Linked DNA regions of Homo sapiens. The protein of the gene in region 1 interacts with the protein of each later gene in a pairwise test. Each region holds a gene or a part of one and is shown on either strand. Other genes may lie near its edges.

Evidence for each region.
Region 2: the proteins of SLC9A7 (region 1) and SCAMP2 interact in binary tests that used the Homo sapiens proteins (3 or more experiments, as listed by UniProt).

Annotation. Positions count from the first base shown.
Region 1 is NC_000023.11:46,752,689-46,769,057, reverse strand, and holds the start of SLC9A7 (sodium/hydrogen exchanger 7), read left to right. Parts: upstream 1-9,939; 5' UTR 9,940-10,028; coding exon 10,029-10,353; intron 10,354-16,369. UniProt on the Homo sapiens protein: Golgi Na(+), K(+)/(H+) antiporter. Mediates the electoneutral influx of Na(+) or K(+) in exchange for H(+). May contribute to the regulation of Golgi apparatus volume and pH.
Region 2 is NC_000015.10:74,840,628-74,855,817, reverse strand, and holds the end of SCAMP2 (secretory carrier-associated membrane protein 2), read left to right. Parts: intron 1-1,168; coding exon 1,169-1,237; intron 1,238-1,698; coding exon 1,699-1,797; intron 1,798-2,321; coding exon of another isoform or gene 2,322-2,450; intron 2,451-3,631; coding exon 3,632-3,749; intron 3,750-4,336; coding exon 4,337-4,465; intron 4,466-5,144; coding exon 5,145-5,304; intron 5,305-7,116; coding exon 7,117-7,218; intron 7,219-10,224; coding exon 10,225-10,345; intron 10,346-10,600; coding exon 10,601-10,735; 3' UTR 10,736-12,088; downstream 12,089-15,190. Other genes in the region: serine/threonine-protein kinase ULK3, read left to right, coding at 13,145-13,279, 13,398-13,538, 13,623-13,743, 14,309-14,413, 15,177-15,190. UniProt on the Homo sapiens protein: Functions in post-Golgi recycling pathways. Acts as a recycling carrier to the cell surface.

The DNA.
Region 1 (16,369 bases):
CGTGGTGACGCACGCCTGTAGTCCCAGTCACTAGGGAGGTTGAGGCAGGAGAATACCTTGAACCCAGGAGGGGAGGTTGCAGTGAGCCGAGATCGTGCCACTGTACTCCAGCCTGGGTGACAGAAGACTCTGTCTAAAAAAAAAAGAGTAAACATGAGCTATTAGGAGAAAATATAGGAAACATCCCAGATCCAGATGAAGGAGGCTTCTTGGAGTAGGTAGCATCTGAATTGGGCTTTGAACAACTAGCAGCAGCTGCCAGGTCAAAATGATTGGTAAGGCAAGAGGTGGAGCATAGGCACAGCCCAAAGGTGTAAGGTATCTTGATGCATTTAGGGAAGAGTGAGACGGAGGGGAGGTGGCAGGGGGTGAATCACAAATGTATTATTAGTCAGGATAGGCTACTTTACACTGTGGTGACAACCGTGAAGTAAAATAAAAATTATCTCCCAGACTACATGTCACACAGGCTTTTCCACCCTATAATTTACCATCTCAGCGTGAGGCTTTAGGACTCACTGCAGCAGGTGGAGAGAACACATGCATCTGCTCTTAAATACTTTTGCCCAGAAATGACATTCACCACTTCTACTCTCATTTCGTTGGCCAAAGCAAGTCATAAAGTCACCTCAAACGTCAAAGAGGTGAAAAATGCAATCAATGCAATCCATCTGTTTTGCAAGAAGGGAATCAGAAATATTAGGAACCACCAGCAAAGTCTACCATAGGCCCTGTGTACCGCGCTTTGAAATTGTGATTTTATCTTCAAGTGCAGGAACAAATGCAAGCAGAGGCCAAACAAACACAAGGAATTCAGGGTCAGCTTCACAACTGGTTGCCCTCTGACTCTATACTTCAAGTCTCCAAAGGCTGAGTATCAGTCAGCGTCCACAGGAAAACAGGCCACTACATGTTCCCACAGAGGAGGTTAAGATAAGGAATTGGTTACATAGGTAATGCAGAAATGAGATAGCAAAAAGGCAACTGTGAGAGAACCCAGAGATAATAACTACAAGAAGCAGCTACTATCCCTAAACTTGGAAAAACAACAGGGAAGAGGTAGGATTACCAGAACCTGGCGGTACAGAGCAAAGGCCATGCAGAATAGATATGAGGTCCTCTTAGGATGCCTGGTTGCTGCTGCTGAGGTGCTGCCAATGGGAGGCACTTGTGGGAGAGTGGAAGGCAGCCAGAGGGGAGAAGCTTCCTTCCTGGTTCTTTTTTTTTTTTTTTCCTTGAGACTGAGTCTCCCTCTGTCACCAAGGCTGGAGTACAGTGGCGCAACCTTGGCTCACTGCAACCTCTGCCTCCTGAGTTCAAGTGATTCTCCTCCCTCAGCCTCCTGAGTAGCTGAGAATACAGATGCCGCCAACACACCCGGCTAATTTTCCTATTTTTAGTAGAGATGAGGTTTCACCATGTAGGCCAGGCTGGTCTCAAACTCCTGACCTCAAGTGATCCGTTCGCCTCGGCCTCCCAAAGTGTTGGGATTACAGGCGTGAGCCACCACGCCCCGCCAATGCTAGTGTTTATGCCCATATATTTCATAGTATCCTGTGGGTGTGCCTGAATTTAAGGTTTCAGTTTTCCTCATCTGCCACATTTCAGGGTAACTGAACCCAGGACATAGCTCTTGGGGACTTCTTGAGGCCTTAACCACCGTCTTAAACTAATATAAAGTTGTAGCATGTCCAAGGGTAAGCAGAGGATTTGTTAACACATGACAGAGAGAAATTATTTAAGTTAACTTACAGCAATATTTATTTTTCTTGTACAATTATTTGAATTTAACACATGTACAGATTCATACGACCATCACTACAATCAGAATATAGAATGGTTCCATCATCCCCAAACCTCCCTTGTGTTATCCCTTTATAGTTATACGCTTCCCCTCCCACTTAGCCCCAGACACTACTGATCCATTCTCTGTAACTATACTTTTATCATTTCAAGAATGTCATAAAATGGAATAATATAGTGTGCAACCTTTTGAGACTCACTTCCACTCAGCATAATGCCTTTGATATTCATCCAAATTATTAGTATATCAATTGTTCATTCATTTTTATTGCTGAATGGTATTCCATTGTATGAACATACAACAGTTTTTTATTCATTCACCCACTGAAGGACATTTGGGTTGTTTTCAGTTTTTGGCTATTATAAATAAAGCTGCTAATAACATCCATGTAAAAAGCTGGGCGCAGTGACTCACACCTGTAATCCCAGCACTTTGGGAAGCCGAGGCGGGTGGATCACTTGAGGTCGGGAGTTCAAGATCAGCCTGGCCAACATGGTGAAACCCTGTCTCTACTAAAAATACAAAAATTAGCTGGGCATGGTAGCACATGCCTATAATTCCAGGTACTTGGGAGGCTGAGGCATAAGAATTGCTTGAACCTGGGAGGCGGAAGGTGCAGTGAGCCAAGATTGTGCCACTGCACTCCAGCCTGGGTGACAGAGCGAGACTCTGTCTCAAAACAACAACAAAAAAATCCATGTGCAGGTTTTTGGATGAACACATTTTCACTTCCCTTGGATATATACATATATACCTAGGAGTGAGATTGCTTGTTCTTATGGATAAATGCATGTTAACTTTATAAGAAACTGCCAAACTCTCTTCCAGTGTGGTTTACCATTTTGCATTCCCACCAGCAATGTAAGAGAGTTCCAGGGGCTCTTCGTTCTCATCTCCAATTGGTGTTGTCAGTATTTTTTATTTAGTCATTCTATTTCTAATATTCTAAGTCAATCTAATAGGTGGCAATCATGGTATTAATTTTTATTTCCCTAATGGCTAATGGTGTTAAACATCTCTTCATGTAATGATTTCTCATCCACATACCGTCTTTTGTAAAGTGTTAGTTTAAACCTTCTGCCCATTTTTCAACTGGGTTGTTTTCTTATTAAGTTTGGAGAATTTCTTATGTACTATGGATATAAGTCCTTTGTTGAATATGTTTTGTAAATATTTTCTCCCACTCTGTAGCTTGTCTTTTCATTACTTTAAAAGTGTCTTTTGCAGAGCAAAAACTTTTAATTTTGATGCAGTCCAATTATCAATTTTTTCATATAAGGATTGTGCTTTTGGTGTCATATCTAGGCACTCTTTGCTTAATCCAAGATCAGGAAGGTGTTCTTATGTTTTTTTGTAACTGTTTCACAGTTTTGTATGTTACATTTAAATCTATAATCTACATAAAATTCATTTTTGTACAAGGTATAAGATTTAGCTCAAGGTTCATTCTTTTTGTGTATGGATGCCCAATAATTCCAAACAATTCATTGAAAAGAACGTACCTTGTCCATTTAATTGCTTTTGCACTTTTGTGAAAAATCAATTTTGTATGTAGACCTATTTCTGGACTCTAATTTTGTCCCATTGATGTATATATCTATTCCTTCACCAATGCTACCCTGCCTTAATTATACTTTATTACTTTACATAGTAGCATTACAGTACATCTTAAATTGGATAGTGTGAGGCCTCCAATTTTATTCTTCTTTTTCAAAATTGTTTTGGCTAGTCTGTTACTTTGACTTTCCTATTAATTTTATATTTCACATGGCTATATTCACCAAACATTTTGCTGGGATTTTTATGGAAATTTTATTAAATCTGTATATCAATTTGGAGAGATTTGACATCTTTGCTTAGTCTTTCAATCCATGAACATGGCATGTCTCTTCATTTATTCAGGTCTTCTTTGATTTCTTTCATCAACATTTTATAGATTTTAGCATATAGATCCTGGACATGTTTTGTTAAAAATTTATACCTAAATATTTTTCTTTTATGCTATTGTGAATGATACATTTTAAAGATTTTTTGGCCAGGTGCAGTGGCTTACACCTATAAACCCAGCACTTTGGGAGGCCGAGGCAGGCGGATCAGGTGAGGTCAGGAGTTCGAGATCAGCTTGGCCAGCACAGCAAAACCTTGTCTCTACTAAAAATACAAAAATTAGCCAGGTGTGGTGGTGGGTGCCTGTAATCCCAGCTTGGGAGGCTGAGGCAGGAGAATCACTTGAACCCTGGAGGCGGAGGTTGCAGTGAACCGAGATCGCACCACTGCACTGCAGCCTAGGTGACAGAGCCAGACTCCACCAAAAAAAAAAAAAAATCTCCAGTTGCACATAGCCTGTATATAGAAATATGATTGGTTTTTGTGTGCTGACCTTGCACCTTGAGACCTTGCTAAACTCGCTTATTTGGTTCTAGGATTTTGTAGATTTCATGGGATTTTTCTAAGTAGATGATCATATTATCTATGAATAGGAGAATTTTTCTAATATCCTTTGAGAATTTCTCTTTTTTCCTCCCTTTTCTTTTTGTTCCCTCTGTTTTTAGTTCCTCTGTTTCCCCAGCATTCCATTAAAATTTACATATTGTGATTTTTGCTATATACGTATGCCTTTTATTTCGTTTTTCTGTCTTAGTGCACTGACTTGGAGTTCCAATACAATGTTGACTAAGAGTGGTGATAGTGGACTTCCTTGCCTTTTCCCGACCTTGGGGGGAAAGAATTCAGTCTTTTAAGAATAATGCTAGATATTCTGTGCGGTTTTTTTTTTTGGGGGGGGCGGGTATCTGCTCTTTATCAGGTCAAAGAAGTTCCCTTTTATTCCTATTTTGCTGAAAGCTATCATGAATGGATGTTGAATTTTGTCAGTGCTTTTTTCCGCATCAGTGAATATGATCAGGCAGCTTTTCTTCTTTAGACAGTAAATATGGTGGATTGCATTGAGTGATTTTCTCATGTTGAACAAGCCTTGTAATCCTAGGATAAATACCACTTGGTCATGGTGTACACTTCTTTTTATACATTGTTAGATTCAATTTACTAATATTTTGTTAAGAATTTTTATGTCTAAGTTCATGAGAGATATTGGTATGTAGCTTTCTTTTCTTCAACTGTCTGACTCTCTAGAAGAGACTGTACAGTATTGGTGTTATTTCTTCACACGGAAATCTATTTTTGTTGGATGTATTATTTTTGGTTAACAGTTCTTTCAGCACATTAAAAATGCTGTGCATGTCTTTATGACCTTCTTGGTTTCTGATGAGAAATCCGTAGTCATCTGAATTGTTGTTACCCTGTATGTAATATTTCATTTTTATCTTTCTGCTTTAAACATATTTTTTTGTTTTTCTTTTCAGCAGTTTGAATATAATGTGTCTGTGCTTTGATTCTTTGGGCTTATCCTGCTTGGGTTTTGCTGAGGTTCTTCAATCTGCAGGCTTGTGTCTTTTGCTTTATCTGGAATGTTTTCAGTTATTATATTTTCACATCTTTTTTTCTGTACCACACTGTTTCTCTTCTCCTTCTGTAACTCTAAAGACACAAATGTTAGATATTTTATTATCTCCTATAGGTCTTTGTGGCTCTATTTATTTTTCAGTTTTTCCTCTCTGCTATTCAGGTTGGATAATTTCTATTGATCTATTTTCATATTTACTGACTCTTTCATCTCTATTCTGCTATTGCATCCATCCAATTTTAAAATTCCAGCTATTGTATTCTTCACTTATAAAATTTTTTTTTTTTTTTTTGAGATGGAGTGTCACTCTGTCACCCAGGCTGGAGCGCAGTGGTGCGATCTCAGTTCACTGCAAACTCCACCTCCCAGGTTCAAGTTATTCTCCTGCCTCAGCCTCCCAGTAGCTGGGATTACAGGCACATGCCACCATGCCCAGTGAATTTCTGTATTTTTAGTAGAGATGGGGTTTCACCATGTTGGCCAGGCTGGTCTGGAACTCCTGACCTTGTGATCTACCCGCTTTGGCTTCCCAAAGTGCTGGGATTACAGGTGTGAGCCACTGTGCCCAGCCTAAAATTTCAATTTGGTTCTTCTTTTATCTTTTACTCCTGTGCTGAGCCTTTTATCCTTACATTCATTTCAAGATTATTTGTCCTTACTTGTTGGAGCATCATTATAATAGCTGCTTTAAAGTCTTTTTCAGATAATTCCAACATTGGTGTCACCTCAGCAGTGGTGTCTGTTGTTTGCCTTTTCCCACCCAAGTTAAGATTTTCATGGTTCTTCAGGTATTGAATAATTTTGGGTTGTATCCTGGACATTTTGAATATTATGTTATAGGACTTTGTATCTTGTTTTAATACTATGGGGAAATATTCATATTTTTGTTTTAGTTTGTAATAGACATGCTTGGGTTTAGATCACAAGTTCTGACATGCCTTTTGTGGATAGTGGCTCCAAAGTCAATTCAGTTTTCAAAAGTTTGTAATGCTATTCAGATCTGTCCTACATGTGTTTTATCCAGTGGCTAGTCTAGGGCTTGGGTGGTGGTCTGCCTCTTAGTTCAGTTATCACAGTCTTTGGTATGCTGTTTAGGATCAGATCCATGTGCAGGTTGGGGTGAACCTAGGAGTTCATAAAAACTTTATGAGGACCTTTCCCAAGGTCCTCTCCTCTCTACTGTCTCCTTGGTACTTTGTAATGCCTTGGAGTTCCCCTTTTAATCAATTGGCAAGAAATCTAGACTATTTAATTTATTTAAAGACAGGGTCTCGCTCTGTCGCCCAGGCTGGAGTACAGTGGTGTGATCATAGCTCACTGTAGCCTCGAACTCCTGAGCTCAAGTGAGCCTCCCACCTTAGCCTCTTGAGTAGCCAAGACTACAGGCAAGCACTACAGTGCCCAGCTAATTTTATTTTTAAATGTTTCATAGAGACAGGGTCTTGCTACATTGCCCAGGCTGTTCTCCAACTCCTGGCCTCAACAAATCCACTCACCTCAGCCTCCCAAAATGTTGGGATTACAGGGGTGAGCCACTGTGCCTGTCCAGAAATCTGGGTCTTTATTTAATCCTCTCTGTTATGTATTTCCTGAAACTTTGCCCATGTCTTGGGCCAAGCATCAGGACAGAGAGAGTGAAAAAATATATATCATTGAGGTTTTGGCCCCACTGTCTTGGGACCAGAGCTACTTCAAACAGAGAGGAAGGTTCTCCCCTCCCTTAGCATTTTTTGGGTGCTTGAAGGTATTGCTGTCTCCATTGTCACTGTTGACTGAGGTGCCACAGTGGGATTGCTTATTGGCTAAAATGTAAGAGAATGGAGAAAAGAAAAAAAATGGCACATTTCTCCTACTTTCTCTGAATATTAGGAGACCAATTTTCTGCTTTTCCTGGAGCTCTCTCTGTCCATGTTGATGCTCCCTTCCGGGTGTTAAGCTGCCTTGAGTCCAGTCTAGTGGAGACTGGAGGAAAAAAATGGTAAACTCACCGCCAGTTCAGTTTTACTTCAAATTCTGTTGTTTTTCCTCAGTTTATGTGGTACAATTTACTTTCCAGAGTCCTCAAATAGTTGCTGCATGCATTCTGTTCACATTTTATAGCTGTATTCAGTAGCAGGTAATGGGTTTAGTGTGATTATTCTGTGTTAACTGAAATCAGAACTCCTGTATTATATAGGTTAGTTTTCACACATAAATATGTAGAGATAATGGAGTGTTTTCTTTGGTGTGTATTTGTGAATGGTTGGGACTAGTCTTTTCATACTCTACCCAAGGGAACTACTTTACATAATAAATACTCTTCTGGTTATCTATTGCTGTGGAAGAAACCACCCTCAAACTTAGTAGCTTAAAATAACACCAATCATTTTATTATGCTACAGTTGCAGATGTTGGTTAGGTTCAGCGACATGGTTCTTGCTTGGGGCCTCTCATATGTCTACAGTAAGATGGTGGCTGGGAATGAATTGATTTGAAGACTCATTCATTCACATGTGTGGCATTTGGGCTGGGAACACTCAAAAAGTTGGGTCTCCTGTGGCATCTACCTCTATTGCTACATGGTCTCTCTACATGGTTTCTTCAGTATGTCAGCTTCCAGGTAGCTAGATTTCTTTGTCTGTTTGTTTGTTTTTTTGTTTTTGGAGGCAGGGTCTCACTCTGTCACTCAGGCTGGAGTGCAGTGGTGCAATCTTGGCTCACTGCAACCTCTGCCTCCCAGGTTCAAGTGATTCTCGTGCCACCACCTCCCAAGTAGCTGGGATTACAGGCACACACCACCACACCCGGCTAATTTTTGTATTTTTAGTGGAGACAGGGTTTTGCCATGTTGGTCAGGCTGGTCTTGAACTCCTGACCTCAGGTGATCCGCCCGCCTTGGCCTCCCAAAGTGCTGGGATTACAGGCGTGAGCCACCGTGCCCAGCCTAGCTAGAGTGGAAAGTGACAGAATGAAACAGGCAGGAGCTAGATTACCTTTTATGACCTAGCCTCACAAATCACATAATCTCCATTACCACATTATATTCTTTGAGGGAGTCACAAAGGTCCACTGAGGTTCAAGGGGAGGGAACATAGATGCCCCTTCTTGATGGGGGATGGTAAGGTTCTGGGATTGGAAATATGATTGTGGCCATCTTTTTAAAAAATACAATCCGCCACAAATACTAAGAAGTCTGTACTTTTAAGGTAGCTCCTGAGTTGCCCTTTTCTAAAGAGAGAAATTCTGTCCTTGAGTACTGGGCACCCAAAGGGGCATAATATTATGACCAACACAGTGCCCATCCAGGTTTTAAGTATTTGCAATTTTATTGGAAACCTGTGTGGAACTTCAAGGTATACGGATGTTTGCAGGGGCTGAGTGACTGCCTAGAGGAGTTGGGAAAGGGGCTAGCTAAAATGTAGATGAAGAGATTTCCCTGCTTTAAAGAAACCACTAAACAGCTTTGGCAGAGTGCTCACCTACAGGGGAACCAGGAAGGCTGCAGTACTCCAAAGAGTTTTCTTACCTAATGCTACCTCTACCCTATTATTTCATTTGGTTAAGCATCACCTTCTTCAATGAATCCTCTTAAAAATGCAAACTCCCCTGGGAGCGAAAACATGGGCAGTTTTGGTAGAGATTTCAGAGTGGTTCAATAAACACATGAGTACAGTGCTAAGCACTGGGAACTCAGTGATTAATCTGATCTTGTTTCTTCCTTGACCAGAGGAGCAAGGTGGATTGAAGATTCTAGTTTTCCTGAGAATTTGTTCCAAGAGGCTTCATCCTTCAGAGTCCACGCCATAATTTTGTTCAGAGCTGGGTTTGGTCTTAAGAGTCATTAAAAGACTCTCTGAGCTACCAGGTGAGCAACATAAAAGAAAGGGTCATCAGGGTAACCCCCACCCCCCACCACCACCTTAGGACCAGCTACTGCTCATCTACCAGGAATGGCAAGCGTTCAGTTCCTTCTGGTTCAACCCTATTCCCCAAGGGGATTAGTAGCACAGCGCAGACGAAGTCTATTCCCTCAAGTGAGGAAGGAGATACTTCAATGCCCTCCCCCGATTCCAACTCCTTATCAGTCCTCACATTTGAGTCTGATGAGAACAGAGGTTTGAATGAAACCTAGCAGATTCTGGGGCTGGAAGGGCAACCTGAGAGATGAGGAAAGAGAGGTGTAGGGGCTAACGTGGCTTCGGGGCTGCTCGGTTCACTGACAGCCCCCACTTTACTGGGCCCAGGGCGGCTGCACACTGGCCTGAGATTAAACACTTCGCCGTGGCGCCAGAGACGGGACTCGAGACCGCAAGGCTAGTCACTCCAAGCCGATGCTCCCGCTAGGCGCCGGCGACCTCTGGCGTCCCCTTTCGGAAGTGCGGCGGCGGCTGCCCATGAACTGGCCCCACGACCCCAGACTGCCTGGGCAGGTGCGCCAGGACGGGGTGAGAAGCGCAGAGAGGCAAGCAGCCGGCGGCCGGCCCGCAGACCCGAGGGCAACACCCGGCCCCGCCTGGGTGGCTCGGTTGGCCCGCGGGGCGGTGCGGCGTGGCGCGGCCGGGGGACGAACAGGTGCGCGGGCGGGGGGCGGTGCTTGGGGATCCTGCGCACTGCGCGCGCCCCTCCCCCGCGCGGCCCCGGGCGCAGCCCCGGCCCGGCGCGAGTAGGAGGAGGAGCTGCAGCGGCCACGGCCACTCCGGCAGGTCCGCGGTGCTGCCAGAACCCGCCGACGGCGCGGGCTGCTGGTCCCCGCTCGGAGGAGGCGCGGGGGGCCCCGGGACCATGGAGCCTGGTGACGCGGCGCGCCCTGGCTCGGGTCGGGCTACCGGGGCGCCGCCGCCGCGGCTGCTGCTGCTGCCGCTGCTGCTGGGTTGGGGGCTGCGAGTCGCGGCCGCGGCCTCGGCCTCCTCCTCTGGGGCGGCGGCGGAGGACAGCAGCGCCATGGAGGAGCTCGCTACTGAGAAGGAGGCGGAGGAGAGCCACCGGCAAGACAGCGTGAGCCTGCTCACCTTCATCCTGCTGCTCACGCTCACCATCCTCACCATCTGGCTCTTCAAGCACCGCCGGGTGCGCTTTCTGCACGAGACCGGGCTGGCCATGATCTATGGTGAGCACCCCTGTTACACCCCCCGCCCTCCACACCCCTCGGCCGCCGCGCTCCTCCTGGCGCCGCGCGGTGCTCCCCCTTCACTTGCCAACGTGTTCCGTTTCTTTTACGTTTCCCGCTGCGACGGTGTTGGTTCCCAAGGTCAACTGTCTGCATTTTCTGGCTCTCTGCTACCGTTAAAAACAATTCCACCCCTATTCCACGTTTCTGCATTGGGAACCCAGGAAAATGAAAGGGACAGAGGTGGTCCGGTTCCGTCTGCCCCGTTCGGTCTCTGTTGCAAACCTCTTACCCACCACCTCCCGCTCCAGTTGAGCTCGATAGGGTGTGTGTGCCTGCGTGGTGGCTGGAGGTGGGTGGCTTCCCAGGTGACTGCATCACCTCAGGGGACAGGCCACAGTAGGGAGTGGGGACGAAGTCTGAAAGTGTCTTTGCTTGGGTATGGGTTAGTGGGGCCTCTTGGACGCCACATCCATGGTCAGCCTGGGTGGGTACCCACTCCTGAGGTCCACATTCCCAGGTCTCTTAATGATAAAGTCAGAGCATGAAGTGTGGTGAAAGGTGAGCAGTGGTCCAGGACCCAGAGTGGGTGGCACCACCATGTCAGGCCTGGACGAGGAGACAGGCACGCCTCCTGCTCTTATGTCCCGAGTGGAAAGTTATACCCAGTTACTTGCTTTCTCAAACGAAGAGGAGCTTTTGTATTCCTAAGACGGTAACAGGGAGTGAGTTTGAGATACATTTCCGAATGTATGAAGGGGAAAAGTCGTGGTTTTAATTCCGGAGTCAGCCATCTTTTGTTGTTAGGGGTGGGCTGATGCTACCATCCTTTTCTAGATTTAATGGTACACAGTGTGTTACATGCACAGTGGTCAGTACAAATCTCCCTTTATTACATGGATGTCAGCCATAATCTGAGTCATCCCTCTTCCTCTTCTGTGCCCCCTGCCTCCCCCCTCGCCCTGCCCATGACTCCAAAGTGGAGTCAGGTATTCTCTTTTTGAATGTAATTCAGTGGTGTTAAAGCCCCTGAATTGGCATCCTCACACGAAATAGACGAGCCACTTCATGATTGTTCCCAACGGGGAAAATTTTATTTTATCACATATACTGAGGGATTTCTTTATTCAGTTTCCATCCAGGTGCCCTGATAGAGAATGGAAAGCAGAAACCTTAACCTTTAATGTGAAAATTACCCTTGGTTCTGGGCCTTGCTTCTCATGTTTCTTGATTAGTTGTTGACAGCCGGGGCTCATGGCCACCAGGCCCTCGCAGCCAAACCGTGTAAGGGGCAAGCGCTGTTAAGAGCCCTCCAGTTTTGATGAAGTAGTGACCTACACAGATCTTGAAACAGGACCAGGTCTAAAACCGAGTTTGGTGATTGCGAATTATAGGTCTCAACACAGACTTTGGCCTCCATCCCTGACCGTTGTTGAGCTCTGTGGTTTGTGTCAGTTGGTGATAAATGACTGATGCCAGGCCTGCAGGTAAGCTGGGAGGTTTCCTGAGAAGACAGACAGGGGGGAATTGAAGCACGTGGTCATTGCAGGTGATTGACTCCAAGCCATGATGCAAATGAAAATTGCCTTTATATAGATAACCGTGAAAATATTTTTATTTAATAGGCCCTAGACCCAGTTTCTTAAAGGACAATGTGAAATAGGAGGTAGATTTGTCAGATTCGTAAACACATGCTCAAGGGATGGAAAATAAATGGGGATTTGAAAATATATTTTCTGGAGAGTACTCCGTGTTCTGAGGAGTTCAATCACCTTTATCTTAAGGCTTAAAGACAACAGTGGAATTTTCCTTTGCTGATACGTACTTTTAAAACTCACCTCCATCTTTCAGCCATTTGGTTGTGCTACAGTGTACTGTTTTATTTTGTGAACAATCAAGTTACAAATCTAGTGTAACTGATGGCTGTTCAGAAAAGGCAATATCATCTCAGCATTCCTGTGTAATTTTGTTCTATATCTTTGAGTATTAGTGTTTCTTTAAATGTATAAAGAAATTTAGTTTGTCAATATGTGATGTCTCAGGTTATGCCAAATATTAATATTTTAAGGACTGTCTGTAATTGTGAGAAAACATTTCTTCTTTCTCTCAGGTATGTTTGGTCTTCTACTGCAAGGTCCCCCTAATCTGAATTCTAATGTCATGTGATTAGCTAATTATTCATAGTATACTGAAGACTATTGGGATGGGGATTTTAAACTGATCTTAAAATTCAGTTTGCAAATCTTTTAAAAAATTGTCTGCATTTAAGATGTACAACATGATGTTTTGATAAACACAATGAAATGATTACTACTGTCAAGCAAATCTTTGAACACAAGTAAATCCAGTAAAGATTTTTCAAGACTTCTCTTTTTTAATAGTAAAAAATAAAATTTGATTTCTCTATATCAATAGAGGAAGTGAGTAATTGTCCTCTTGGCTCTGAATAAGGAACGACAAAAAGACCTAAGGAAACATTTTTAAAGTATCCACTGTGTGCTGGGAACCCAACTTAATTTCTGGAGGCAAACAATTTAACTTTTAAATGTTTATGAATGAAAGAGTTCAACTGTGAATTTCAAAACTCTTTATTTTGAGAAAAAGTTTTAAAATGTAATTTCTGCCACCTTTTTGTGTTTAAGTGACACTTTAATCTGAGAAGAACAGCGTTTACATTTAAGATAAATTTATATATATATAAATTTATATATTTGTTGGTATAGTCGTAAAATATCTCTGGAAGGACATGCAATAGATGAGTAACATTGGTTTCCTTGGGGGAGAGGAACTAGATGGCTGTGAAATAGGAGTGGGAGGGAGAGGTCACCATATAACCTTGTATGCTTCTTGGTCTTGTAATAGCTTTTTTTTTTTTTTTTTTCCAAGACGGAGTCTCACTCTGTCGCCCAGGCTTGAATGCAGTAGCGCAATCTCGGCTCACTGCAAACTCCACCTCCCGGATTCAAGCAATTCTTCATCTCAGCCTCCTGAGTAGCTGGGATTACAGGCGCCCGCCACCATGCCCGGCTAAATTTTGTATTTTTAGTAGAGATTGGGTTTCACCATCTTGGCCAGGCTGGTCTTGAACTCCTGACCTCCACCCACCTCAGCCTCCCAAAGTGCTGGGATTACAGGTGTGAGCCACCGCACCCGGCTGTAATAGCATTTTAACGTGCTCCTCAAATCACTCAATTTGACGCCTACTTCTCCCTATTTAAATCACATTATGTTATCAATTTTCTTCATGACTTTTCAATTCTTAATTGTGCCCTTGGAGCTTTTCTGAGCCCTGTGTCTGGGATGGAGATAAAATGGGGAAAGGGGAAGAGATTTCTCTCTCTCTCTCCCTCCCTCCCTCCCTCTCTCACCCTCTCTTTCCCACTCGCTCTCTCCCTCTTTTTCCTTCCCTTTATTCCATTATCCTCAGAGAGTAGTCAATGTTACATTAGCAGTGATGTGCACAAATAGACCCCATAATAAGTGCTTGCTTGGATGCAGAGGACCTAAGGAAAATAAAAGACACACTGTGAATGCTTAACGTTTAAACAGAAAGGAACTCCCCCACCCACCAAAGGACACTTATAAGCATTCCTCCCTGACAGGCCAGGGCAGCTACAAGGGAAGGTAGCTACAGACCTAACTCCCCAGGAAGGTTGAAAGCAGCCCCCAGACCCCACCACTGGAGCTGCAAGGCAGCGGGGCCAGGCACTTGCCTGCCACCAGTCTAACCTGTTTTGTCAGGCCAGGGAGCTCCCAGCTGTCTGTCTCTGTTATGTGATTAAGTGCCATCCTAAAGTTACTGGGCCCTACATGTCTTTGCAGCAGAAATAGAAAGTGTTTAGGGCAGGGAAAGTTGGTATAAACAGACTGTGCCAGTTCATTGTGGTTCTCTCTCAGATGTACGGTAGTTCCACTTCCCCCATAATGTTTTTGTGACAACTGATATGGATCCAAAATAATCTGACTCTGCCATGCTAACCCACCACCTGCTTCTCGCTTCCTCCTCCTCCACCACCCCATCACCTTTCCAAAAATATGTTGATCAGCCCCTCTAGGTTCTATGGGTTGTGGGCTCACTGTTGCTGTGGTGGAGCTGGATTGCTAAGCACAGCCTGAGAGTGGGCTCATAGGCAGAGTCTGAAGGGGAAAAAGATGACTCTTTGCGGTAACATGAAATTAACATTTGAACCTGTAAGCAAACATTTTGGAACCATCTCCTTCCTGGTTAATCAGGAGTCCCCCCTTTTAAGAGCCCCTCACTTTGGCCCCAGTTGGGAGCAGCTTCTGTATGGTCTCACTTTGGTACCAGATAACCCTGGGTTCAAATGCTGGCCCTGTTGCTTATAAAACTGTATAGCATTGGATAAACTCTCTGAGCCTTAGCTTCCTCTTTTGGAAAATGGAGATTATGTTACCTCACAGAATTGCTGTGTTATTGAGATATTCTAAAGGGTCAAGTGCAGTGTCTGACACTTAAGCACTTGGTAAATATTAGTTCCCATTCTCATTTTAGGCTTTGTGATTCTTTGGCAGGCTTTACTACTTGAGGTTTGTTCAGTAGTGGACTGTTGTAATTTTAAAATGCATTAGGACACAGTTAGTGGAAGTGAGGAAAATTGTATATTTTGGGGTGAGCTTTTGGTTAATACCTAGAAAAAAATTTACAACACACCTACCCTTTTAAAATTTTATTTATTATTATTATTATTATTATTATTTGAGACAGAGTCTCACTCTGTCGCCCAGGCTGGAGTGCAGTGGTGCGATCTCTGCTCACTGCAAGCTCCGCCTCCTGGGTTCATGCCATTCTCCTGCCTCAGCCTCCAGAGTAGCTGGGACTACAGGCACCCGCCACCATGCCCGGCTAATTCCTTTTTGTATTTTTAGTAGAGACGGGGTTTCACCATGTTAGCCAGGATGGTCTCAGTCTCCTGACCTTGTGATCCGCCCGCCTCAGCCTCCCAAAATGCTGGGATTACAGGCATGAGCCACCGTGCCCGGCCCACACCTACTCTTTTATTCAGCATTTTCAATTCTTGGACTTTCAGAAATCTATCAGAAATACTTGTGCTAGCATGTTGCAATATATAGACAGCAATATTTGTTGCAGTGGACATAAGTTGCAGAACTCATCAGATGAGACTGGTTAAATTGTAGCACATTCCCATTAAGGAATACTATGCAGCGATAAAAAGAGGTGTTTTGAGATGTCCTTTTAAGGCTACTGTCCACACATAATGTTGTGGAAAAAAAGCAAGGCACAGAACATCATGTATAGTATTATTCTATTTGATCTTTCAATAACTATATACTGTATATACACAAACATGATGTATGTAATTTATATATGATATATGTGCTTTTATGGAAGGATATGCAAGCTTTATCCTTTGGGAGCAGGATGAGTTGTTGGGAGAGAGAGAGGGGAGGTGGTACTTTTCCTTTATATTATTCTAAATGGCCTGAACTTTCTTTAATACTGACACATTACTTTTGCAATTTAAACATTATTTAAAAATGAAGCAAATAACTTATGTAGCAAAAAAATGCTTTATAAACAGAAGATTGTACTATGTGGTTACATAGCATTTTCCTTGGATTGTCGAAATGTTCTTTGTAAAGCGGTCTCTGGATATAAAGAATACTTTTACTTATTATTTGAAAGTTATAAATGGAAGTAAAATGTTTGTATCTTAAAAAATAGAAAAATGACATTTACTAAAAGCATTTCTTAGAATATTAAAAAGTTAACCTTTGTGGAACGCTGTAATTAGAAAAATCACAATTTTTCAACCTCTAGTGATAGTTTATTTAGACAAGGGTTTTCAATGAATTCCAGAATCCTAGGTGAAAGGTTATTGGGGAACATGGTACTTGCAAAGTACTATCACCCCACAGGTTACTTGCCTGTTGCAAAGAAAAGAAGGTACCTTTACAGTGAAGAGGTCTGGCAGTCACCATCTTATAAGCAAGTCATCAAATGTATCCTTGCTCATTGTGGGACTATCTAGTATCA
Region 2 (15,190 bases), on another chromosome or scaffold:
CTCTTAGCAAGTGTGCCCGATTTAATAAAATCAGTACTGGCAGCCAGCAGCATGTTTTTGTTCTAGAAACTTAGACTACTTTTTTTTTTTTTTTTTTTTTTGAGATGGAGTTTTGCTCTTGTTGCCCAGGCTGGAGAGCAATGGCACAATCTGGGCTCACTGCAACCTCTGCCTCCCGGGTTCAAGTGATTCTCCTGCCTCAGTCTCCGGAGTAGCTGGGATTACAGGCATGCGCCACCACACCTGGCTAATTTTATATTTTTAGTAGAGACGGGGTTTCTCCATGTTGGTCAGGCTGGTCTTGAGCTCCCGACCTCAGGTGATCCACCCGCCTCAGCCTCCCAAAGTGCTGGGATTACAGGCATGAGCTACTGCACCCGGCTACCTTAGACTGTCTTTTACAAAATAAGAGGAATGGCCAGGCATGGTGGCTCACGCCTGTAATCCCAGCACTTCGGGAGGCCGAGACAGGCAGATCACGAGGTCAAGAGATTGAGACCATCCTGGCCAACATGGTGAAACCCTGTCTCTACTAAAAATACAAAAATTAGCCGGGTATGGTGGCGGCCGCCTGTAGTCCCAGCTACTCAGGAGGCTGAGGCAGGAGAATCGCTTCAACCCAGGAGGCGAAGGTTGCAGTGAGCCAAGATTGCGCCACTGCACTCCAGCCTGGGTGACAGAGCAAGACTCTGTCTCGAAAAAATAAAAAAATATAAAAAAAGAGGAATAAATGAATAATAAGTAAAACAGTACAGAAAGGTTATAAAGTCAATAGTAAGTCTCTACCCTCACCACCCCATTCACTTGCCCCTCAGCACCCCACCCCTCAAAAAAAAAAAAAAACCCACTCCCTAGAGGTAAATACTATGAACCATTTTGAATCTGTATAGGGCACCAACAGGAGCCTGTGTGGTGTGTACTCTCAAGCTTCTGGGTAAAGCTTGCTCTGGGTCTCTTCTGGGCTGAACCTTTTCCAGGAAGGGGGAAGGGAGAAGGGACCGCAGCTGTGGTGTGGCAGAGGCAGGCACAGGACCCTTCCAGAGAGGCTTCTCAGGGTCCCGGGAGGGTGATCAGCTGCCCTGCTTCAGTCAGGCGTCACCGGCTCGCCTGCCGGCCCCTGGCCCGGATTTTCTCCACTGTGTCTAAGGGCTTTTTTTCACCTTCTCAGGATCCCTCTGTGACCCAGCTGACCAACGCCCCGCAGGGCGGCCTGGCGGAATTCAACCCCTTCTCAGAGGTTGGTGAGCAGGCCCTCTTTCCAAGTCCCATGGCCCTCTAGGGTGGTGCTGGGGTGTCCGGGGCAGGGATCCTTGGCAAGGACAGAAGCAGCTCTGAGAAGCGGCAGTCCTCAAAGGGACAGTCCTAACATGAACCCGGGAGGCAGGGTAAGGATGGCAAAGCCACCAAACGCTCTGTAAAATTCTCCCCTTGGGATCTGTGACCGGGGCCCCTCCCCAAGGAGGTCAGGGCAGTGCCCAAGTGTGCTGGACCCAGCGAGCCCAGGGGTGCCGGGTTAGGGATCAGATGGCCTGAACCTGAGGCTTGTTGGCTGGGAAGCCACAGGGGAAGGCCCAGTGCAGGCCCCGAGGGAGTCCCCTCACAGGCAGGGGCACATCACTCATCCTGCTGTGGGTTTGCCCCCTCGTCACCAGCTAATGGAGTCCCACTCAATTCTGTCTTTTGATTTGTTCCATGTAGACAAATGCAGCGACAACAGTTCCTGTCACCCAACTCCCTGGGTCCTCACAGCCAGCGGTTCTCCAGCCATCAGTGGAACCAACCCAGCCGACCCCCCAGGTAGTGCTGACAAAGAACTCTGGCCTTTTCTCTCCAGTGAGGGAATCATCCAGACCAGTAGCTGAGCCCTGAGGCTGGGGGCAAGCAGAGAGCTTTCAGCCTTGGCCCCCTAAGGGCCCTCTTGCTAATTTGTTCGGAGCTGGTCACCTACAAGTAGAGGGGCTGCTCTGCCAATTAATATCCTTACTCCCTCCATCCCACCCACCACCACCACTGAGAAATAAGCTCTACTCACCAGGCCGGGCTCCTCGGTGCCTCCAGAGAGGGCATTTGTCCCTGTTGTACCCCTCCAGGTCCTCCTCGGGCCTTTGGCTTGTTCTCTCTTCCTTGGGGCCCAGAATCTCTCTCTTTTTTTTAACTTCATTAATTCTCACCTTCCTTCCTGTCTTCCTTTGTCCCTTCACCAAATACTGTGAATCTTGCCTGCTTTGTGCCTGGTGCTCCACTGCGCCGCCTCACTGCCCTCCCGCTGCACCCCTCGCTGCCCCTATGAGCGTGACCCATGGTGGAGTTGTGTGTTGCAGCTCCTGCTTAGACAGGCCAGCAAGTTCCCGCCTGCCCAATTCCTGGCAGTGAGCGAGCTCTCAGAGAGGCAGATGCTCCTAGGAGGAGAAAGTATTCTCAGAGACAGCTACATGCGAAAGCTTCCGAAGGTAGGCCTAATGTAGATGAGCAGGAGGAAGGGCAGGGCACCCGGAGCCTGCCCCACACCCCTCCCAGGCCCCAGAGCCCTGTGGAGGTGAGGCAGGCCTTACATGCGGAGTTGCCTTTCTGTGCAGCTGGGTGGTGGGCTGTAGGGAGCTGGGTCCTTCTCAGCTGGCGTCACAGACTTGGAGGAGGTCAAGACCCCCAGCGTGGCACAGCGGGGTCAGTTCTGCTCCTGCTTCCGCCCCCAGTGCCTGAAACTTGGCTCTCCACGTCAGCCTTAGGTCTTTGAAGAGCTTTTGGAGAGGTTGGTGTGTGTATACATGTGTGTGTGTACACATGTGCCTGGTTTGTCATCCTGTGAAATGACCAGTTTGAGATCTCTCCCTAAAAAGGACTGTAGTCTCATCCTTCAGGAGGAACCTGGCCCAAATGGCAGCAGCTGCCAGCAGGTGCAGGGCCCCGGGGCCAGGTCTGTTCAGCCTCACATACAGTCAGTCCCTTACTGTTACTCAGAGGCTCTACCCCGCCTGGAGAGGAGATAAGTGTGGACTCTGCATGCCACTAAAGCCAGGCAGGGCAGGGCCACACCTAAGGGGCTGTCCTGGGGTGTAGCCAATTGCAGTTTAGGGGGACCTCAGGAGGCAGCTCCTGGGGGCAGGCCATGGGGCAGGGTGCTTGTACAGATCCTGAGGCTCAGGCACACGCCATCTGCCTTCACGTGTCTCCCCTTTCCACTCACTGTTAGCAGGCTTGCACTGTTTTCCTTCTCACACATCCACCAGGCTCTTCAAATGAGGCTTGGGTCTGTGGGTTTCTTATTATAGTTTAGTTTCTTGTGAGGTCTTTTTCCCAAAGGTCACAATCACTGAGCGCTGCCTTGACCCAGTATGGGGAAGAGGTGGAGAAGCCAATGGGGGTAGTTTTCCCAACTCAAGCTTAGGGATGAGGGGAGAGGACAGCTTAGTCATGGCCAAGGGGTCAGGAAGGTGTGGGGGCAGTGGAAGACAGGTTGGCCTCTCTAAGGTGGTCTCTGGTACCTAAGACACTCTGTGGGGCGGGGACTGCTTCTGGGACTCCTTGATGGCTGTCCCTGCCTGGGGCAAGGCCTCTCTGCCTGCCTACCCAGGCTGACACTGTTTCTGTTTGTTGTGTCTGGCTGTCCCTGTACCTCCCCTGTTCTCTCCAGGCCGTGGTGTCTGCAGCCCAGGCAGGCCTGCTCCGGCAGCAGGAAGAACTGGACAGGAAAGCTGCCGAGCTGGAACGCAAGGAGCGGGAGCTGCAGAACACTGTAGCCAACTTGCATGGTAAGGGAGGCTGCTGGGGCCTGGGGCTGCCCTGCCTGGCATAGAAGAGTGTCCTGAAACCTGTGCGGAGGGCCTCCCAGCATTCACCCTGAGCTGCCTTAGAGTTTTGTGGGGCTCTTCTCATCACAGGATGCTGGTCCTGGGAAGAGCAGTAAGTTGCAAGTCAGGAGACCTGCAGTGTAGTTGTAATGGCTGTAGATTACTTCTGCACTCCTTCCTAGCTCTCAAATTCCTTGATTCTTTGATAGCATAGGGGCTTTGGTCCCACAATTCCTTGCTAATGATGATGAACTGAGTTCTCACACTTATGGGCTGCTTGTTAATAAAAATAATCACTTAGGCCATTTAGCTGTCTGTATTTCCCAGTGCATTTGGGGTCTTTTATCTCCATGTGAGCTTGTTGGTATCTCTTTGGGTTCCATTATCCTGTTCTGTCCCACTCCATGCTCCATGCAGACTCCAAGCCCCGCTTGCTGGAGCCCCTCTGGGAACCCTGGTTTGGCCCATACACTATGCTGGCGTGCATGCACCTTGATGCCCCTTCTGAGGCTGGGCCCTTACCTCGTCACTCTTTTTGCCCTACCCAGTGAGACAGAACAACTGGCCCCCTCTGCCCTCGTGGTGCCCTGTGAAGCCCTGCTTCTATCAGGATTTCTCCACAGAGATCCCTGCCGACTACCAGCGGATATGCAAGATGCTCTACTATCTGTGGATGTGTGAGTCCCACTCCTGCCTTCCAAGCGCAAGGGCGAATTGGGTGTGACTTGAGAGCCCCATCTTGGTCCTGGCTGCTCCTCCCTGGTATACAGGCTTTCAGCAGACTCCAGCCTTCCTCAGTGCCTGGGCTGGGTTGGGGAGATGCCTCTGCCCACAGGCTGCCCCCTGTCTGGAAACCTCCTTGAAAGGGGCAGTCCAGACCACCGATCAGGGAGGGTGGGACTAACTAGAGGCTTCCAAGTTCCTTCAGAGCTCACTGCACTAAAAGGCCCTCCTTAGGTGAAGGCCTTCCCTGCCCACAGGCCTGTGAACTCTGAGGGGTGAGGAAGGAGACTCCCCCTGCAGCTCCATCAGGGGCCATCCAGGGCCAGGGAAAAGCATTGCTAAGAGAAAGACTTCCTTCCCCAAGGACCAGCCCTGGGTCTGCATCCTCCCTCCACACCCCTCAGATACCCGGGCTGTCCCATCACCTCTCAGGAACGTAGTTTGATCCCTGGTTTTGAGGTCCCAGAAAACCAGGATATGGGAACTATCCCTGCCTAGGTACAGAGCGGGCTCCTCTGTTTCAGCAGCTGCCTTCGCAGCATGAACCTCACCTCTCCTAGGGAGTGGCTGCCACATTGGAGCCCCTCAGCCACTGTGGCACAAGTCATAACTCTGTCCTGTCCCCTTCCCCAGTGCATTCAGTGACTCTGTTTCTGAACCTGCTTGCCTGCCTGGCCTGGTTCTCGGGCAACAGCTCCAAGGGAGTGGACTTTGGCCTCTCCATCCTGTGGTTTCTGATCTTCACTCCCTGTGCCTTCCTTTGTTGGTACCGACCCATCTATAAGGCCTTTAGGTGAGTGAGGCCGGGGCAAGGGGTGAGACTTTATGGCTGGCATCCCAGGTAGCAGGCTAAGGGCTATAGGCCCTGGGACCCCATCTGAGTCTTAGAGCAGAATAGAATGTAGGGAAATCCACTTTCCCTACATTCTGTTCCTCTGTTCCCACCCAGAGCAGAGATTGGGGGCCCCGTTCCTCAGTTTCTGTACCTGAGGTCTGCTCTGGGCCCTGTCCTTGGACCAGGCACAGGAGACCTAGAGAAGGGACCTCCCATCCCACTGCTCCCAGTCTGGCTGATGCCGTTACTGGGAAGAGGGAGGGGACGCTCTTTGGGAACTCCCTTCTGAGGCTCTAAGGTGTGCTTCTCTGGTAGTATCAGATGAGTGCTCTCCAGGGCTCTTTCTCCATGACTATTGATGCTTCCCAATAAAGACTGCCAACACCTAAGCTAGATACTGGGAACATAGCTGGATACACCTTACAGACCCCCAGGGGTTCTGGAATTGTACCTCAGGGTTTATGCTTTCAGGGCTGGGAGCCCAGCAGGCCCTGGGAAGAGGGATTAGGGTAGTGGCTGAACCATCCCTGTACCACTGGAGGCCCTGAACCCTCACTGTGATCTAGCCCTCAAGGACACAGAGATGGAAGTCCTCAGCTCGTGAGAGAGTTTTGTCTGGTGTCCCCTGTTTCCCAAATATTTTTTTCTTCCAGTCAGATGTACAGGTTTTGTTTTTTTCTCATTGTTCTTTGTTACCACGTATCCTCAAGTTCTATTGTTTTTGTTTTGAGAGGGAGTCTCGCTCTGTCACCCAGGCTGGAGTGCAATGATGCGATCTCGGCTCACTGCAACCTCCTCCTCCTGGGTTCAAATGATTCTCCTGCCTCAGCCTCCGGAGTAGCTGGGCTTACAGGCACACACAATCACACCTGGCTAATTTTTGTATTTTTAGTAGCGATGGGGTTTCCCCATGTTGGCCAGGCTGGTCTTGAACTTGTGACCTCAAGTGATCCACCTGTCTCGGCCTCCCAAAGTGCTGGGATTACGAGTGTGAACCACCGTGCCCAGCCTGTTTTGTTTTTTTGAGACAGAATCTCAGTCTGTTACCCAGGCTGGAGTGCAATGGCGCAGTCTCGGCTCACTGCAACCTCCGCCTCCCAGGTTCAAGTGAGTCTCCTGTCTCAGCCTCCCAAGTAGCTGGGATTACAGGCGCACACCACCACGCCCAGCTAATTTTTGTGTTTTTAGTAGAGACAGGGTTTTGCCATGTTGGCTAGGCTGGTCTCAAATTCTTGGCCTCATACAGTTTTATTATTAAGAGATTTACTTAGTTTTACTTATTATTAGAGATTTTACTTATTATATAGAGATTTACTTATTATTAAGAGATTGGCTTAGTTTTTCTTGCCTGTTATGAAACGCAAGTACTCCAGGAGATGGAGTGTTAGGTTCTTTGTTTTTTATTTACTTATTTTTCTGAGACAGAGTCTTACTCTGTCACCCAGGCTGGAGTGCAGTGGCGTGATCTTGGCTCACTGCAGGAGTGTTAGGCTCTTTATATTGTCCTTTGGGGGAGCAACTTTATCAGCTCTTTGAGGAAGGGGTCAAGCACTGACCCCTTAAATTGGAAGGCAGTGAAAGGCAAGCTCTTCTTGATTATGGTGGGGGGTGTGTGCGTGTCCTTACGGGTGGTATGGCTGGGCCCCTGGAGCTCTGTCTCTTGCCCATGCTGCCTCCTGGCTCCTAGTGAGGAGGGATGTCACACCAAGTAAGGATGCTGAGGAACACAGCCCAAGCCCTCTTGTGACTTATTTCCCTCTCTCTCCACAGGTCCGACAACTCTTTCAGCTTCTTTGTGTTCTTCTTTGTATTTTTTTGTCAAATAGGGATCTACATCATCCAGTTGGTTGGCATCCCTGGCCTGGGGGACAGGTGAGACCTGGGCATCACAGAGGGAATTAGGCTTTGGATATGGGACTCAGCCTCTCTTGCCCTGTTTTCTAGCTCCCACAGAGCCCCGCCAGTGCCCTGCTTTTCCCATGGCGGGGAGTGGGTGAGTGGGCCAGCTCGGATCTGCTTTGGGCCTTCTCTCCAGTTCTTCATCAGTAGCCACTCACTTTTTTTTTCTCCTTGATACTAAAGGCATCAAAAGACACTCACTATTGGTCAGGTGCAGTGGCTCATGCCTGGAATCCCAGTACTTTGGGAGGCCGAGGCAGGCAGATTGCTCAAGCCCAGGAGTTCGAGACAGCCTAGGAAACACAGGAAGACCTTGTCTCTACCAAAAATTAAAAAAATTAGCCTGTTGCAGTGGCATGCACCTATAGTCCCAGGTACTTGGGAGGCTGAAGCAGGAGGATCACTTGAGCCCAGGAGGTTGAGGCTGCAGTGAGCCATGATTGCACCACTGGACACCAGCCTGGGTGACAGAGTGAGATCCTGTATCAAAAAAAAAAAAAAAAGACACTATCTTCCCTTGCTCTCCACTTTCCAGGGTATTGTGGGTGAACTTGGCTTGACTCTTTAGGCTACCATGACAGTGTCCTGCACTGGATTGCAGCCTCTTCCTTTTCTCCTGCCACACCCTCCTGAAAGCTGATGGATGCCCAGGCCTTTGCAGACTCTGAGCTGCAACTTTTTCCAGATGCCTTGTAACTTAAGGAGACGGTTCCCTCACCTCCCCTGGACAGGCTTCTTCTGGCTGCCCTCTTTGAGCATACGGCTGGTTTGAGTTTCCAGGGTACCTCAGTCCTCAGCTCAAAATTAATCTCAAAAGAAAAGCTGATGGCTGATGTTTTCCTTTCTGCCCCAGTGCACAGGGAGCATTGCAGAAAGGTCAGACTGGCACTTGGCTGACAGCCTGAGCCTGGAAGGGCGGTGCTATTTTGGTCCCCTCCCTCTGGCAGAGCTGGCAAGTCCAGAGCAGTGGGGAGAGAAAGGTTGCCTCCCCTTGCCCTCCAAACAAGTGCACGCTGCCCTCCCACCACCCCTCATGCTTCTTGCCCTGCTGTTGTTAATCTGGTCCCTTTTGACCAGTGACCCAATTTCATTACTCCTTACCTAAGTAAGACCCTGGTAGAAAAGCTGTGATTCATGACTGCCGTTTGCACCTGTACTGGGAATCAGAAGGCTTGAGTTGGCTGGGTGCGGTGGCTCATGCCTGTAATCCCAGCACTTTGGGAGGCCAAGGCGGGTGGATCACCTGAGGTCAGGAAGGAGTTTGAGACCAGCCTGGCCAACATGGCAAAACCTTGTTTCTAGAGAGTACAAAAATTGGCCAGGCGCATTGGTAGGTGCCTATAATCCCAGCTACTTGGGAGGCTGAGGCAGAAGAATCACTTGAACCCGGGAGGTGGAGGTTGCAGTGAGCCGGGATCACACCACTGTTCTCCAGCCTGGGCTACAGAGCAAGACTCAATCTCAAAAAAAAAAAAAAAAAAAAAAATTAACTGACAATAGGTGTATGGGTTTATTTCTGGAATCTCAGTTCTATTCCATTGATCTATTGATCTATATGTCTATGTTTATGCCAGTCCTACACTATTTTAGTGACTGTAGCTTTGTAGTAAGTTTTGATGTCAAGAAATATGAGGATATCCCTTTTACAGATGAGGACATGGGGCTCAGACAGGTGACAGCAAGTTGGCCAGTGATCCTCCTTCACAGAAGGTGGGTCCTCAGGAGTGAGCAGCCACGCTTTCCATACTCCCCACCCCCAAAGCAGCAGAAAAAGGCCCGGCCCAGTGCTACCTTTTTAATTAATTATTTTTTGAGATGGAGTCTCTGTTGCCCAGACTGGAGTGCAGTGCCGCGATCTCTGCTCACTGCAAGCTCCGCCTCCCAGGTTCACGCCATTCTCCTGCCTCAGCCTCCCGAGTAACTGGGACTATGTAGGTGCCTGCCACCATGCCTGGCTCATTTTTTGTATTTTTAGTAGAGATGGGGTTTCACTGTGTTAGCCAGGATGGTCTCGATCTGCTGACCTCGTGATCCGCCCATCTTGGCCTCCCAAAGTGTTGGGATTACGGGCTTGAGCCACTGTGCCCAGCCCTTTTTCTTTTTTCTTTTCTTTTTTTTTTTTTTTTGGAGACAGGGTCTCACTCTGTTGCTCAGGCTGGAGTGCCGTGGCGTGATCACAGCTCACTGCAGCCTTGAACCTCACGGGCTCAAGTGATCCTCCTACCTCAGCATCCCAAGTAGCTGGGAGCATAGGCATGTATGACCACAGCCAGCTAATTTTTTTTTTTTTTGAGTTGGAGTCTCGCCCTGTCACCTAGGCTGGAGTACAATGGCATGATCTCGGCTCACTGCAGCCTGCACCTTCCAGGTTCAAGTGATTCTCCTGCCTCAGTCTCCCGAGTAGCTGGGATTGCAGGCGTGTGCAACCACGCGCAGCTAATTTTTGTATTTTTAGTAGAGCAAGGTTTCTCCATGTTGGCCAGGCTGGTCTCAAACTCCTGACCTCAAGTGATCTGCCTTCCTTGGCCTCCCAAAGTGCTGGGATTACAGGCACGAACCTGGCCTTTTTTTATTTTTTATGGAGACAGGGCCTCCCTCTGTTGCCCAGGTTGGTCTTGAACTCTTGGGCTCAAGCGATCCTCCTGCCTCAGCCTCCCAAAGTGCTGGGATTACAGGTGAGAGCCATAGCACCCAGCCCGGTGCTACTTCTGACTCTGTGAAGGCAGCAACCACATCCTCCCTTTCAGACCTCACATAACCAGAAGATTCCCCTTGTGAATGGGGTAGTGTGGGCCTGTCAGCCTTCACGGAGGTCTGGCCTCACAGGCCAAGGGCTTCTGGCTCACAGGGCTCCCTGTGCTGTGGGGAGATGCCAAGGTGATGGTCAGGACACAGCAGCCACTTGGAGAAGAGCCCCTTATGCTGACTTTTGGAGCCCACTCCCACTTTGCTCCCTCTGGCCTCTTCTTCCCTTTATAGCGGTTGGATTGCAGCCCTGTCTACACTGGATAATCATTCCCTGGCCATATCAGTCATCATGATGGTGGTGGCTGGCTTCTTCACCCTCTGTGCCGTGCTCTCAGTCTTCCTCCTGCAGCGGGTGAGTGGTGTGGGCAGGGCTGACAGCAAATGGGAGGAGGCAGGCAACCGTTTCCTGCCCTTGCCACGAGATGTTTTTCACCACTGCAGTTGGGCATCCTAGGCCCCCAAAGGTCCAGTACCTTTCTCCAGGGATCTGGGTGGGGGGTCAGGCAGTGCCAGGCTTCTGGTGACCCCTTTGGGAGTATAACCTGGATGGCTGGCTTCCTGGTGGGCCCAAAGGACAGGCTTCTCTCACCCCACCCCTCTTCGCCAGGTGCACTCCCTCTACCGACGGACAGGGGCCAGCTTCCAGCAGGCCCAGGAGGAGTTTTCCCAGGGCATCTTCAGCAGCAGAACCTTCCACAGAGCTGCTTCATCTGCTGCCCAAGGAGCCTTCCAGGGGAATTAGTCCTCCTCTCTTCTCTCCCCCTCAGCCTTTCTCTCGCCTGCCTTCTGAGCTGCACTTTCCGTGGGTGCCTTATGTGGTGGTGGTTGTGCCCAGCACAGACCTGGCAGGGTTCTTGCCGTGGCTCTTCCTCCTCCCTCAGCGACCAGCTCTCCCTGGAACGGGAGGGACAGGGAATTTTTTCCCCCTCTATGTACAAAAAAAAACAAAGCTCTCTTTCCTTCTCTGGTGATGGTTTGGTAGGATTCTTTTGTCTCTGGAAGCAGTGGGACTGAAGTTCTCTTCGTCCTGTGCACACACAGACACCCCCACACAGTTGGGATCACAGGCTGACCTGGGCCCATCCCAGCTGGAGCTTTCTGCCAGGGTCCTGGGCCTTGACTCCCCCACCCTGCAGGCCTGGCCTGAATCTGGCTTCTTAGACACAGCCCAGTCCTTCCTGCCTGGGCTGGGAATAAGCCTCTCACAGGTTCTGGTGGACAGATCTGTTCCCCAGGTCACTCCAGTGGTCTCCAGGCTTCCAGAGAAGGCTGGTTGCCTCAAGCTCTTCTCTGCCTCATAAACGGATCCAGAGAAGGCTGGTTGCCTTAAGCTCTTCCCTGCCTCGTGTTCCTGAGAAACGGATTAATAGCCCTTTATCCCCCTGCACCCTCCTGCAGGGGATGGCACTTTGAGCCCTCTGGAGCCCTCCCCTTGCTGAGCCTTACTCTCTTCAGACTTTCTGAATGTACAATGCCGTTGGTTGGGATTTGGGGACTGGAAGGGACCAAGGACACTGACCCCAAGCTGTCCTGCCTAGCGTCCAGCGTCTTCTAGGAGGGTGGGGTCTGCCTGTCCTGGTGTGGTTGGTTTGGCCCTGTTTGCTGTGACTACCCCCCCCCCTCCCCGAACCGAGGGACGGCTGCCTTTGTCTCTGCCTCAGATGCCACCTGCCCCGCCCATGCTCCCCATCAGCAGCATCCAGACTTTCAGGAAGGGCAGGGCCAGCCAGTCCAGAACCGCATCCCTCAGCAGGGACTGATAAGCCATCTCTCGGAGGGCCCCCTAATACCCAGTGGAGTCTGGTTCACACCCTGGGGGGTGTGTCACTGTGATGGGACACGTAGGAGTCCACCCTTAAAACCAGCACCCTGTCCCTCGAGGCTGCCGAGTGGGTGTGTGGACTGGGGTGCCTTCCCACAAAACTAGCCTCCGGCTCTGGGCCCGAGACAGCCGCAGGCCCCAGCCACTGAATGATACTGGCAGCGGCTGGGGTTTTATGAACTCCTTTCTGGTATTTTTTCCCCTCTATGTACAAATGTATATGTTACGTCTCAATTTTTGTGCTTAAGTAAAAATAAAAACATTTTCAGACAACACGGGTCCACATGTCTGGTGGACTTGGGAGGACGGGGCAGCCCACAGGATTAGGGGCTGGGCGCCGCTGCTAAGATTGGAGAGCGGGGACAGTTAAGATGCAATAAATAGGTCAAGGCCCTTCCTCAGAAAAGTGAAAAGCAGCTGGGAGGCCTGGGAAGCCAACGCGGCCTCTTCCAAAGGCGCCTTCTCGTGCCAGTAGCTCTCCTTTCAGAGCTGCGGGTCCTGGGGAGGGGCCCTGGGAGCCTCCCGGACGCCGTCGCCCCCACACACGCCCGCTCCGCCGCCCGCGCCCTCACGTGGGCGATCTCTAGACGCCTCTGCGCCCGCTAGGAGTCCCCGGAGACCACGCCGGCCGTCCTCCGTTGTTAACTTCTAGGCTCGCGGGGCCTCCGTATCCCCACGTGGGCCCTGCAGGAACTGGCGGGGCGCGTGACCCGGCGAGGCCCAGAGACAGGGGAGGGGCGCCGGGAGCCGGGCGGATCCGCGTCCCCGATGCGCGCTGCATTTCCGGCGGGCGGCGCTGGGGGCAGCGTGGAGCCACCCAGTGCTCGGCCCGCCCCGCAACCCGCCGGAACCGCCGCCCGCAGCGAGGAAGCGCCCGCGCGGGCGCAGGCGGCCGGAATGGCGGGGCCCGGCTGGGGTCCCCCGCGCCTGGACGGCTTCATCCTCACCGAGCGCCTGGGCAGCGGCACGTACGCCACGGTGTACAAGGCCTACGCCAAGGTGGGTGCCGGCCGATGGCCCCGTGCCCGCCCGAGCTAGCTCGGCTGGTGCCGGCCGGGGAGACTCTGAGAGGTTAGCGACAGTGTGGGAATAGTTAGGGGCGGGAGGCCGGCCTCGCCCCAGCTGACCCTCGGCGGAGGTTGGAGCCGACTGCCACGCTTAGGTCTTAAAGAGCGCACCTGCACCCACCTGCAGGGTCAGTGGCTGAAGAACAGGCTCAAAACAGGTTACCTGGTGGGCTGGGAGGAGTCTGGGACTGGAGCCAGTTGGGAGGCAGAGTGGGCGGTTCTAGAACCCTGAGTGACATGCCTCTGCCGGGAGCACTCCAGAATGCAAAGAAATGGATCAGCTAGCCGAGGGTTGGAGAAGACCAGGCTGAGGCTGTGTCGGGAAGCCAGGATTCCAGAATCAGCATTCCTCACTGGCCTCACAAGGGAAAGCTGGGAAGCCCGGTGCTGGTGTGCAGTAGGTAGACCCGGGGAGGGGCGGGGTGGGGGAACAGAGGGAACCAGATAGAGCCTTTCCAGTCAGACAAGGGTCCTGGCCCCCTCAAGGCAGAGTCCCCAAATCTCCTGTCTCGCAGAAGGACACTCGTGAAGTGGTAGCCATAAAGTGTGTAGCCAAGAAAAGTCTGAACAAGGCATCGGTGGAGAACCTCCTCACGGAGATTGAGATCCTCAAGGGCATTCGACATCCCCACATTGTGCAGCTGAAAGACTTTCAGGTGTGAGCCTGGGGCGGGGCCGCTGCCAAAGGGAGCTGGAGAAGGGACACTCTCTTCAGGCCGCCTCTCTGCCTCTAAACACAGTGGGACAGTGACAATATCTACCTCATCATGGAGTTTTGCGCAGGGGGCGACCTGTCTCGCTTCATCCATACCCGCAGGATTCTGCCTGAGAAGGTGGCGCGTGTCTTCATGCAGCAATTAGGTAAAGGCCTGTGACACCAGCCTGACACTCTGTCCCTTGTTCTCTGCCCCCCACCATCCCACCCCTCCCCCAGGCTTAGAGCCTTGGCACGCATTGCAGCTGCCTCCTGCACAGCCTGAAATTTTATGGTCCTGTTTATCTCATACACTCAACCCTTGCTCAAGGACGCTGTGGGAGAGATGAGGGGGTAACCCCTCTGTGGGGTGTTCAGGCTTCCATACATAGAACATAATATAAGGACCTTGTAGAACATTCCAGAGTCCTGTAGGTAGGACTCAAGTGCTGTGCCAAGGAAAAGAGCAGGATCTCAAGGGCTGGGGCATCCAGAGAAGCTTCTGAGAGGTGGGGAGACTTGTGAAGGGGCAGAGGGAAGGAGGGTGGGCACTCGGGTGGGGTGGCAAACTCCTAGAAGTGGTGTGATCTTGGTGCTTATATGGAAAACATTAGACCAGCCAGGCAGGAACTGGGGTTGTGCAGGCTTGAGGAGGCAGATGTGAGCCGGGGAGGCGAGAGGCAGGCGGGAATGGGCTCTGAACTGTCTCTCTTCGTGGGTCCTGCTCCTCAGCTAGCGCCCTGCAATTCCTGCATGAACGGAATATCTCTCACCTGGATCTGAAGCCACAGAACATTCTACTGAGCTCCTTGGAGAAGCCCCACCTAAAACTGGCAGGTCTGTGTCTGAAACAGCAGGGATGAGGTTTGGAGAGTGCAGAGGCCTCCCTCTGCCTGGGCTCACTCAGCAGCCCTGGTTCTTATGGAGCCCTCTATAGAGTCCTCAAAGAGTGACAGGCCGTGAAGTCTGGGGTTGGGCCCTGTCATCAAAAGGTGGAAGCTTTCTCAGGCTACCCATGCTCAAGTCCAGCAGCATAATGGGTGGAGTTAGGGCTCAGTCTGTGGCCAGAGTTGGGACTCACTGTGTGTCCAGGTTTAGGGGTCAATCTGGGAACAGTGCCAGGGTTCAGCGTGTGACAAGCATCAGGGATCCCTCTGTGGGCAGGGACAGGACTTGGTCTGTCATCAGAATTGGGGCTCAAGTCTGTGACTCCATCTGTGGCCACATAGGAGGGGTGTGGTGGGGGAGTAGGAGGTGGTGACCCTTGATAAGATTTGGATAATTGACACTGGAGGCCAGAGACTGTGATAGAACCTAAGCCTGGGGGGACAGTGAGAGGGTGGGGGCTTATGCAGGTAGCTGGTGTGATCAGGTGGGCTTCCTAGGAAAAGGTGCCCAAGGGAGCTGGGAAGGATGGGTAGGTTTTATACCCCAGAGGCAGATATAGGAGGGTGTTCCAGCCTAATGATGAGCAGAGGCTTGGAAATAGGGTTGATCCTGGCGGGTCTGGAGGGTGGAGAGGAGCCTGGGGTGAGGCTTTACAAGTCAGGAGCTGAAGCAGCTGGAATTCAAGCCCTGCTGCCTCTCCTCTTGCCTGCAGACTTTGGTTTCGCA